Linked DNA regions of Homo sapiens: region 2 is linked to region 1. Evidence: fine-mapped expression QTL. A gene starts in region 1. The other region holds a variant in brackets. All regions are shown on one strand. Distances are from middle to middle.

Region 1 (5,379 bases):
GACCTCGTGATCCGTCCCCCTTGGCCTCCCAAAGTGCTGGGATTATAGGCGTGAACCACCACGCCCGGCCTACAAAAACATCTTTTAAAAAGTAGCCATGTGTGGCCTGGGGCGGTGGCTCACGCCTGTAATCCCACCACTTTGGGAGTCTGAGGTGGGTGGATCACTTGGGGTCAGGAGTTCGAGAGCAGCCTGGCCAACACACTGAAACCCCGTCTCTACTAAAAATACAAAATGTAGCCAGGCATAGTGGTGCACACCTGTAGTCCCAGCTACTTTGGAGGCTGAGGCAGGAGAATCACTTGAGCCCAGGAGGCTGAGGTTGCAGTGAGCCAAGATCTGCCACTGCACTCCAGCCCAGGCAACAGAGGGAGACTCCGTCTCAAAAAAAAGAAAAAAAAAAAAAAAAGCTACATGTGGTGGCACAAGCCTGTGGTCCTTGATACTTGGGAGGCTGAGGTGGAACAATTGTGAGCCCAGGAGGTCCATGATGCAGTGAGGTATGATTGTACCACTGCACTCCAGGCTGGGTAACAGAAGCGACACCTTGTCTCTAAAAAAATAAATAAGACCAGGCATGGTGGCTCACGACTGTAATCCCAGCACTTTGGGAGGCCGAGAGGGGTGATCACCCAAGGCCAAGAGTTGGAGACCAGCCTGGCCAACATGGCGAAACCCTATCTCTACTAAGAATACAAAAAAAAAATATTAGCCAGGTGTGGTGGTGGGTGCCTGTAATCCCAGCTACTCAGGAGGCTGAAGCAGGAGAATCGCTTGAACCCAGGAGGTGAGGTTCAGTGAGCTGAGATCGCGCCATTGCACTACAGCCTGGGTGACAGAGCAAGACTCTGTCTCGAGAAAATAATAATAAAAAATAAATAAATAAATAAAGGAAAAGACTGAGAGCAATGTGAAAGAAATGAACTTAAGTATGTACCAAATTGGTAACATAAGTACCTCCCAAAATAAATTATTGCATGTTACATTTTTGAAAGTTTTTTTAGGTAAAGTGTACATACAGTGAACTGCACAGACCTTAAAAGTAAAATTAGGGCCGGGCGCGGTGGCGCACCCCTGTAATCCCAGCACTTTGGGAGGCTGAGGCAGGCGGATCTCTTGAGGTCAGGAGTAGGAGACTAGCCTGGCCAACATGGTGAGACCCCGTCTCTATTAAAAATTTTTAAAAAGCCAGGCACGGTGGCTCACGTCTGTAATCCCAGCACTTTGGGAGGCCAAGGCGAGTGGATCACCTGAAGTCAGGAGTTCAAGACCAGCCTAACCAACGTGGAGAAACTCTGCCTCTACTAAAAATACAAAAATTAGCTGGGCATGGTGGTGGGTGCCTGTAATCCCAGCTACTTGGGAGGCTGAGGCAGGAGAATCGCTTGAACCCGAAAGGCAGAGGTTGCAGTGAGCTGAGATCGCGCCCCTGCACTCCAGCCTGGGCGACAGAGTGAGACTCTGCCTCAAAAAAAAAAAAAAAAAGTCTTCATTTTTGGTTACCCATTTCACTGCAACCTTTGCCTCCCAGGCTCAAGCGATTCTCCTGCATCGGCCTCCCAAGTAGCTGGGATTACAGGCGCGTGACACCATACCTGGCTAATTTTTTGTGTTTTTAGTACAGATGGGGAGTTTCACCATGTTGGCCAGGCAGGTCTGAAACTCCTGACCTCAAGTGATCCGCCCACCTTGGCTTCTCAAAGTGCTGGGATTACAGGAGTGATCCACCACACCCGGCCTGTACTATTAGTTTTCCAAGGTCACTAAGCCTTTCCTTTGCAAAACTTTATGTCCCTATTAATGGCACCATCCTTTCCTCAGTCACTCGGGCTTAAAAAGCATCCTGTGGCACCAGCCCCACAATAGCAGTTCAACTCTTTTATCACTTCCTTTAGAATAGCCTTGTTGAGATATAGATCTCATAACATAGAATTCACCTATAGTGTACAATTCAGTAGTTTTCAGTATTTCAAAGAGTCGTGCCACCATCACCCCAAAAAGAAACTCTGTATCCACTGGCAGTCACTCCCCATCAGGATTTTATCACTTCTGATCTGGCTCAGTCTTCTAACTCCTTATTGTCAATGCCCTCCTTGTTCCAATTCAGTACACACACCACGGGCAATTTGATCTCCCTAAAACACACTGTATCCTCTCTCCTAGATACCTTCCGATACTCCTCCAAAGAACTCTCGGATTCAAGTAAACAAACATCCATTAATACAAGTTAAGTATGTTCCAGGCGCTGTGTGTTCCAGGTACTGTTAACAAAAGCGGGTTACTAGTTAAGACTTCCTTCATGCCCTGGCGCCTCTGCTCAGCCAGTTCCCTTCGCCTAGGAGGACCTCTCTACACCACCCCGCTATATTCCCTCCCCGGAATTCCTTCCCAACCTTCAAGGACCATCTGCCCCAACTAGTGGCGAACATCGAGGCTGTCGTGACTGTGTAGATACTTATTTGACCTGCTCCCTTGGCAAACACTTGAAACGCAATACATGTTTGTGGAACTGAACATAGCCTGTGCATGCAGCAAGGCTTCTTTCCCTGGAATCGCCTGCCCTTCCTCCAACACAGCGACCAGCCGGTCAGAATCCCAACCCCTCGACTCCGGAAATGATCTGAGAGACGGAACTTCCGAACGTCGCAATCAGATTTGGGCGGGCTAGGAGGGTTTGGGTCTTCAGGTCACATCTGGACGGAGAGACCTCCGGGGCCTCCGTTGGTCGGTCCTTCCGCTCCGGATACCGTTCCGGATGTCAGGTAGTTCAGGTCCCGCCCCGACGCCGGCCGTGACGAAGGCACGCCGGGGTGACCTCACCCTCCAACATGGCGGCGGCGGTAGATTAGGGCCGCGGGTCGGAGCACTCACCGCCGCTGGGGGACCCTGTCGGAAGCAACTGCCGCCGCCGCCTCTTTCATCTCTTCTGGGGCAGGGGCCAGGGCCAGGTGAGGGGAGTGGGGTTCCGGGAAGGCTGAGCTGGGTGAGGAGGTGGTTTTCACCTGGGTAGGAAAGTGCCCAGAGACCGTATCGAGCCACCGACTCCCCAGTGGTTCCGACGACGCGTGAGTTTGAGTGTGTGTGTCTACACCGGCGCTCCTTCGCCCGAAGGTGCTCGGAGCTTAGGGGTCCGCTTCACCGTGACCGGACCTGGCCGCGCGGCCCCGCCGCTGAGCAGGCTTCTTCCGGCGTGGGGTGCCGGAGGCGGAGGAGCTCGGCCCTGGCTCCACGCCGCTGTCCTTCCCCACAGACAGCTTCACGTGGAAAACCCGGGTCCATTTTTAGGGCTAAACTGGGGAACGGCGACTTCTTTTTGGTTGAGGGAAAGGTTTTCCTGCGATTCACTTAGAACACTGGAAGATTAGCTTTGCCAGTCTTAGTCGTTTCTTCTCAGAGATTGTTAGAAGTCTTGTTTCTTAACCTTAATTCACTGCTGTTCTGACACCTATTTTTTCAGAAAAAAACTGCCTTCTTGCCCTTGGAGGCAGTACAGTTCACACGGAGTCATTTTCCCCCTTTGATTTATCCTCCCAACATTCTGTAAAGATCCTATTTCTTGCCTTCATAACCGACTTTCTGAGTGGAGGCTCTAACCTAGCGTTGAAAATCGGACGGATCTGGCCAGTTGTTCACATGCTGTTGACTGCTGGCTTTGGTTAGCTCTTAGCCACTCCCTGCACAAGTGTTTGTTTATTCAAAATAGCTATCTCACTGTCTCTGTTTAGAAGTTTGAACTAAGCTGAGAGCCCTCCCTCCTTACTTTTATTTTTTTGTTGTTGTTGCGTAAAACAAAACAAAAACTTCTTTGGCGAAATTATAAGATTTCCTCTGGAGGTTTAGTATAAAGCAGAATGTTGCTCTCTGCCCTGACTAGTGTGACCTTGGATGAGTTGCCACACCCTTCAGATACCTTCTTTCTTTTTTTTTTTTTTTGAGACAGAGTTTCCCTCTTGTTGCCTAGGCTGGAGTGCAATGGCGCGATCTCAGCTTACCGCAACCTCCGCCTCCTGGGTTCAAGCCATTCTCCTGCCTCAGCCTCCCGAGTAGCTGGGATTACAGGCATGCGCCACCACGCGGGGCTAATTTTGTATTTTTAGTAGAGACGGGGTTTCATCATGTTGGTCAGGATGGTCTCGAACTCCCAATCTCTGGTCATCCCCCCGCCTCAGCCTCCCAAAGTGTTGGGATTACAGGCGTGAGCCACCGCGCACGGTGATACCTTTTTTTCAACCACCCCCGCGCCACCGCATGAAGTATTATTTTCATTTTTAACACCCTCTCTCCCCCAAGTGAAGTATTCTTCATTTGGTAATAGGCAGTTAAGGGTATTGAAAATCTTTTTACTAGGAATGGTCAGGTACTGTTCTGTATTTTTTTTCCAATGGCTCATTTTTTATGTGGAAGAGTATATTCAGTAGTTGGATTCACTTTTTATTTTATTTTTAGTTGTCTCCTACAGCAAGGACCAGTAGTTGAATTCAATTGAAAGATGCCTAAGGCTATATCTAACCAGTCTTGTAAAAAAACAGACTTGTGTTTACTAGCACATAATCTAATCAACATGTATTAAATATCACACACATTAAGCTTTTAGGACAAGTGGTTTGCAACAGTAATAATCATTAACAACATTTCATTTGGCTGTTTGCGATGGCTCACTGTAATCCCAGCACTTTGGGAGGCTCAGGCAGGAGCATTGCTTGAGCCCGGGAGTTCGAGACCAGCCTGGGCAACATAAGGAGACCTTGTCTTCACAAAAAATTAAAAAAAAAAAAAATTAGCCAGGCATAGGTCCCAGCTACTTGGAAGACTGAGGCGAGAGGGAGGACTGCTTGAGCCCGGGAGATCAAGGCTGCTGTGAGCTGTGATTGCTCCACTGTACTTCAGTCTGGATGACAGAGACCCTGACTCAAAAAATATATATATGTTTGTTTATTAATTTTTTATATATATATATATATTTTTTTTTTGAGGCGGAGTGTCGCTCTGTCGCCCAGGCTGGAGTGCAATGACACGATCTCGGCTCACTGCAAGCTCTGCCTCCTGAGTTCACACCATTCTCCTGCCTCAGCCTCCCGAGTAGCTGGGACTACAGGTGCCCGCCACCGCGACAGGCTAATTTTTTGTATTTTTAGTAGAGACGGGGTTTCACCGTGTTAGCCAGGATGGTCTCGATCTCCTGACCTCGCGATCTGCCCGCCTCGGCCTCCCAAAGTGCTGGGATTACAGGCATGAGCCACTGCGCCCGGCCTAAATAGATATGTATTTTATTGTGAAATACTTCAGGCATACAAAACACAAGTGTTAAACATTCACTTAGTTCCAGTCTGCATTTATCATTTTTTAGACAGGATTTTGATTTGTATCTTATTCCAAATA
Region 2 (5,379 bases), 83 kb after region 1:
GCCTGTAATCCCAGCACTTTGGGAGGCTGAGGTGGGTGGATTACTTGAGATCAGGAGTTCAAGACTAGCCTGGGCAACATGGTGAAACCCCGTATCTACAAAAATACAACAGCCAGGCACAGTGGTGCATGCCTGTAATCCCAGCTACTTGGGAGGCTGAGGCAGAAGAATTGCCTGAACCCAGGAGGCCAAGGTTGCAGTGAGGCGAGATGGCACCACTACACTCCAGCCTGGGAGACAAAGCAAGGCTCTGTCTCAAAAAAAAAAAAAAAAAAAAAAAAGAATAAAAAATTCTCACAATCCAACATAAAAACACAACTCTATTTAAAAATGGGCAAAAGATTTGAATTACACGTCATTCTAAAGAAAATGTACAAATGGCCAATTAGCACATGAAAAGATGTTCAACATCATTATTTTCAGAAATGTTTTGGAATTCCAAAAATATTTGGAAATATTTTTCTAAATTTTTTGGAGAATAATTTGACGTAAAATTACCATATGATCTGGCAGTTTTACTCCTGCTGTATTCAAAATAATAAAAACATTCAAACAAAAACTAGTACATGGACATTTATAACAACACTATTCTAAAGAGTAGAATCAACCCAAATGTTCACCAGCTAATTAATAAGTAAAATGTCGTGCCTACCTACAATGAAATATTATTCTCAGCCATAAAGAAGAATGAAGTACGGCCGAGGCAGGTGGATCATGAGGTCAAGAGATCGAGACCATCCTGGCCAACTTGGTGAAACCCCATCTCTACTAAAAATACAAAAATTAGCTGGGCGTGGTGGTGGGCGCCTGTAATCCCAGCTACTCAGGAGGCTGAGGCAGGATAATCGCTGGAATCCGGGAGGCGGAGGTTGCAGTGAGCCGAGATCACGCCACTGCACTCCAGCCTGGCGAAAGAGTGAGACTCCATCTCAAAAAAAAAAAAAAAAAAAAAAAGAATGAAGTATGGATACATGCTACAACATGGGTGGGCCTTGAAAACATTATGCTAAGTGGAAGCAGCCAGATACAGAAGGCTATATTGCATGACTCCATTTCTACTTCTCAGAATAGGCAATCCGTAGAGATAGAACGTAGATTAGTGATTGCCAGGGGATGAAAAGGGGGAGAATGGAGAGTGACTACCAAAGGGTGTCTTTTTGGGATGATGGAAATTTTCTGGCAATTGTAATGTGGTTGCACAACACTATGAATATACTAAAAACCACTGAATGGTACACCTAGAAATGGTGGGTTTCATTTTCTTTCTTTCTTTCTTTCTTTCTTTCGTTAGAGACAGGGTCTCGTTCTGTCATTCAGGCTGCAGTGCAGTGGCACGATCATGGCTCACTGTAGCCTTGACCTCCCAGGCTCAAGTGATTCTCCCACCTCAGCCTCCTGAGTAGCTGAGTAGCTGGGACTACAGGTGTACATCACCAAGACCAGCTAATTTTTTAAATTTTTTAATTTTTCTTTTTTTGAGATGGAGTTTCACTCTTGTTGTCCAGGCCGGAGTGCACTGGCGCGATCTCGGCTCACCACAACCTCCACCTCCCAGGTTCAAGTGATTCTCCTGCCTCAGCCTTCCAAGTAGCTGGGATTACAGGCATGTGCCACCATGCCTGGCTAATTTTTTTGTATTTTTACATGTAGTAGAGATGGGGTTTCTCCATGTTGATCAGGCTGGTCTCGAACTCCTGACCTCAGGCGATCAGCCTGCCTCCGCCTCCCAAAGTGCTGGGATTACAGGCGTGAGCCACCGTGCCCGGCCTTAATTTTTTTTTTTTTTTTAGAGGCGGGATCTCACTGTGTTGCCCAGGTTGGTTTCAAATTCCTGGGCTGAAGTGATCCTCTCTCCTTTGCCTTCCAAAATGTTGGGATTATAGGTGTGAGCCACTGTGCCTGGCTATGAATTTTTATGTTATGTGAATTTTATGAATATGAATCTCAATACTAAAAGAATAAAAAGTTTTTAAAAATTGATAATAACAGGCCGGGCGCGGTGGCTCACGCCTGTATTCCCAGAACTTTAGGAGGCCGAGGCGGGTGGATCACGAGGTCAGGAGATCGAGACCATCCTGGCTAACATAGTAGAAACCCTGTCTCTACTAAAAATACAAAAAATTAGCCAGGCATGGTGGCGGGCGCCTGTAGTCCCAGCTACTCGGGGGGAGGCTGAGGCAGGAGAATGGCATGAACCCGGGAGGTGGAGCTTACAGTGAGCCGAGATCGTGCCACTGTACTCCAGCCTGGGGGACAGGGCGAGACTCCGTCTCAAAAAAAAAA[A/T]ATATATATATATTTCCACGTGCCCCACGCCGCATTTCAGATGTGCGAAATTCAGACATTCAGGAGCCTCTTCACCTGATTCAAATTGTTCCACAGTTCCTGTGGGGATTGTTGAGTATCTACTAATCTCATGTTCCCAGGAAGTAGCAGAGCCCTGTTCATATTTACATTCTTTTAGTTTTTAAATTTTTGTTATTTTTTAATTTAAAAAATTTTGTTATGCTGCAAAAAGCTTTATTCCATTTAGTCCAGGGCTTGGGAGAGGGCTTCAGCGTGGTTAAAAAAATACATTCTTTTAAATAAATGGAAATAGTTTTTTTTTTTAAGTCATGACACTTATAAGAAATTTTTTTTTTTTTTTTTTGAGACGTAAGTCTTAATGCCACCCAGGCTGGAGTGCAGTGGTGCGATCTCAGCTTACTGCAACCTCTGCTCCCTGGGTTCAAGCAATTCTCCTGCCTCAGCCTCCCAAGGAGCTGGGATTACAGGCATGTGCCACCACGCCTGGCTAATTTTTGTATTTTTTAGTAGAGGCAGGGTTTTGCCATGTTGGCCAGGCTGGTTTCAAACTCCTGACCTCAGGTGATCCACCCACCTTAGCCTCCCAAAGTGCTGGGATTACAGGCGTGAGCCACCACACCCGGCTAATTTTTTATGTTTTTAGTAGAGACGGGGTTTCACCGTGTTAGCCAGGATGGTCTCGATCTCCTGACCTCGTGATCTGCCCTGCTCGGCCTCCCAAAGTGCTGGGATTACAGGCATGAGCCACCGCGCCCGGCCAAGAAATTTTTATGATGCACACTTTTCTTGTTACCTTGCCCCTTAGAAATAACTCATAATGGTTTGGTGTACGTTTTTCTAAACATGTGTTTTGCTTATATAAACATTTTATTATGTATAAATATATGCAAATAAGTAGATATGTATATATGTGCATTTAGTAAATAGGATCATACCATCCATTTTCCCACAGAGTTATCTTTGCCACAAATCATGTGACCTTATATATCTAGTTCTGGATTCTATTTTATTTAATTGGTCTAATTGCCTCTGTTTTTTTTGGAATTGAGACAAGATCTTGCTCTGTCATCCAGGCTGGACTACAGTGGCACGATCATAGCTCAGTGCAGACTCAAACTCCTGGGCTCAAGGGATCATCCCATTTCAGCCTCCTGAGTTGAGTAGATGAGACTACAGGGGTGTGTGTGTGTGTGTGTGTGTGTGTGTGTGTGTGTGTGTGTATGTAGAGATGATGTCTTACTATGTTGCTCAAGCTTGTCTTGAACTCCTGGCCTCAAATGATCCTCCTGCCTCAGCTTCCCAAAGTGCTGGGATTACAGGTATGAACCACTGTGCCCAGCCAGGTCTAATTGCCTATTTTTAAGCTCTTACCATGCTTATACAATCAGTGTGCCTTTGTAATGGGTTGAGTAGATACCTGGTAGTGTCAGCTCTCAAACTGTTGTTTTTCAAGATCAGCTTAAATTCCTTGGCCTTTTTAAATTGCTATATAGATTTTAGAATTAATTAGTTGTCAATTTCCATAAGAAAAAACCTGGTAGGATTTTATATTGGAGATTGTATTGAACCAAAGGGTTAATCTGGGAATAGCTGACATCTTTACAATAGTTTTCCAATCTATGAGCATGATATATATATCCCTTTAGGATATCTTTAATTTCTTTCAATAATACTTTGTAGTTTTTTATGTAGAGTTATTGTACAATATGGGCTTCCTTCCACATTGGACTTAAAAATGTACTTCTTTTTTAATAGTAGTTAAATAGTTTGGATGAACCATATATATTTTTAAACTTTCCTGAGGGTATTGAAGACTGTTTGAAATCCTTCTGTATTAAAAATGATGCTAATGAAAATCCTTGCAAAATGTGTAAGCTTGAGACCTGATTACAGCTTCCGGTTAGGATCTCCATGTCTTTGCTTACTTAGCTGAACCAAACCCTCCCTGTGTCTCTCTCTATCTGTCCCTCTCCCTCTCTCCCTCTCTCTTTCTCCCTCTCCTGAATGCATCCTCTTCTGGACCATTCCAGTGGTCCTTACCCTGAGGCTGGGGCAAGCTGTCATCCTCAAAAGCTGGGAGGCCTAGAAGCCCTCTCTTCCAAGCCAATGGGCCCTCCAATTTTCCTAATTGTATACTGCAGTACTGTAATTTTTAAAGACAGATTTTACTTTACAGTTTTGTGTTATCTCTGCTTAGAAGAGATGGAGGAGGAAGGAAAAGTTTGTAAATTACCTTCTTTAGCCAAGGGAGGGTATTGTTTCCATTTGTTTTCACTTCCTTATTGTCCCATCCAGTTGGTATTTTAGAATAGCTCTTTGTCCTACCACCATACCACCAAAAACAACAATTAAAATGACAACACAAACAATAGCAAGTTATGAAATAGCATAACTTACTGATTACTTCCTATGTACAAAGTACTAATCTAAGCACTATAAATACTATACCTCGGGCCGGGCGCGGTGTCTCACGCCTGTAATCCCAGCACTTTGGGAGGCCGAGGTAGGTGGATCACGAGGTCAAGAGATTGAGACCATCCTGGCCAACATGGTGAAACCCCGTCTCTACTAAAAATACAAGTATTAGCTGGGCATGGTGGCGTGCACCTGTAGTTCCAGCTACTCGGGAGGCTGAGGCAGGAGAATCACTTGAACCTGGGAGACGGAGGTTGCAGTGAGCCAAGATTGCACCACTGCACTCCAGCCTGATGACAGAGTGAGACTCCGTCTCAAAAAAAAAACAAAAAAAAACAAAAAACAAACTATACCTCATTTTAAAAATGAACTCAAGTCCAGGTGTGGTGGCTCACACCTATAATCTCAGCACTTTGGGACACTGAGGTGGGAGAATTGCTTGAAGCCAGGAGTTTGAGACCAGCCTGGGCAACATAGAGAGACCCGTCTCTACAAAAAATAAAAAAACTTAGCTGAGTGCAGTGGCCCATGCTGTTATTCCCAGCTACTCAGGAGGCTGAGGCTAGAGGATCCCTTGGGACCAGAAGGTTGAGGCTGCAGTGAGCTGTGATCCTGCCACTGCACTTCAGCCTGTGTGACAGAGCGAGACCCCAACTCTAA

The links. PIP is the estimated chance that this variant, and not a neighbour inherited with it, causes the effect. A credible set is the group of variants that fine-mapping cannot tell apart.
Region 2: its variant is the best candidate, but not a certain one, in a credible set for the expression of BCL2L13 in whole blood (INTERVAL, PIP 0.72).

What each region holds. Positions count from the first base shown.
Region 1 is chr22:17,635,939-17,641,317 of GRCh38, forward strand. It overlaps BCL2L13 (BCL2 like 13), which reads left to right and starts at 2,819. Exons shown (of 7, transcript NM_015367.4): 1 at 2,819-2,948. RefSeq lists enhancers at 1,084-1,956, 1,957-2,828, 2,381-2,430, 2,481-2,660, 2,781-3,060 and 1 more.
Region 2 is chr22:17,718,897-17,724,275 of GRCh38, forward strand. All of the region lies in intron 6 of BCL2L13 (BCL2 like 13), which reads left to right. Among named protein-coding and RNA genes, the nearest start is that of MIR3198-1, 43 kb to the right of the region's middle. The variant A/T (reference allele first, on the strand shown) is at 2,284.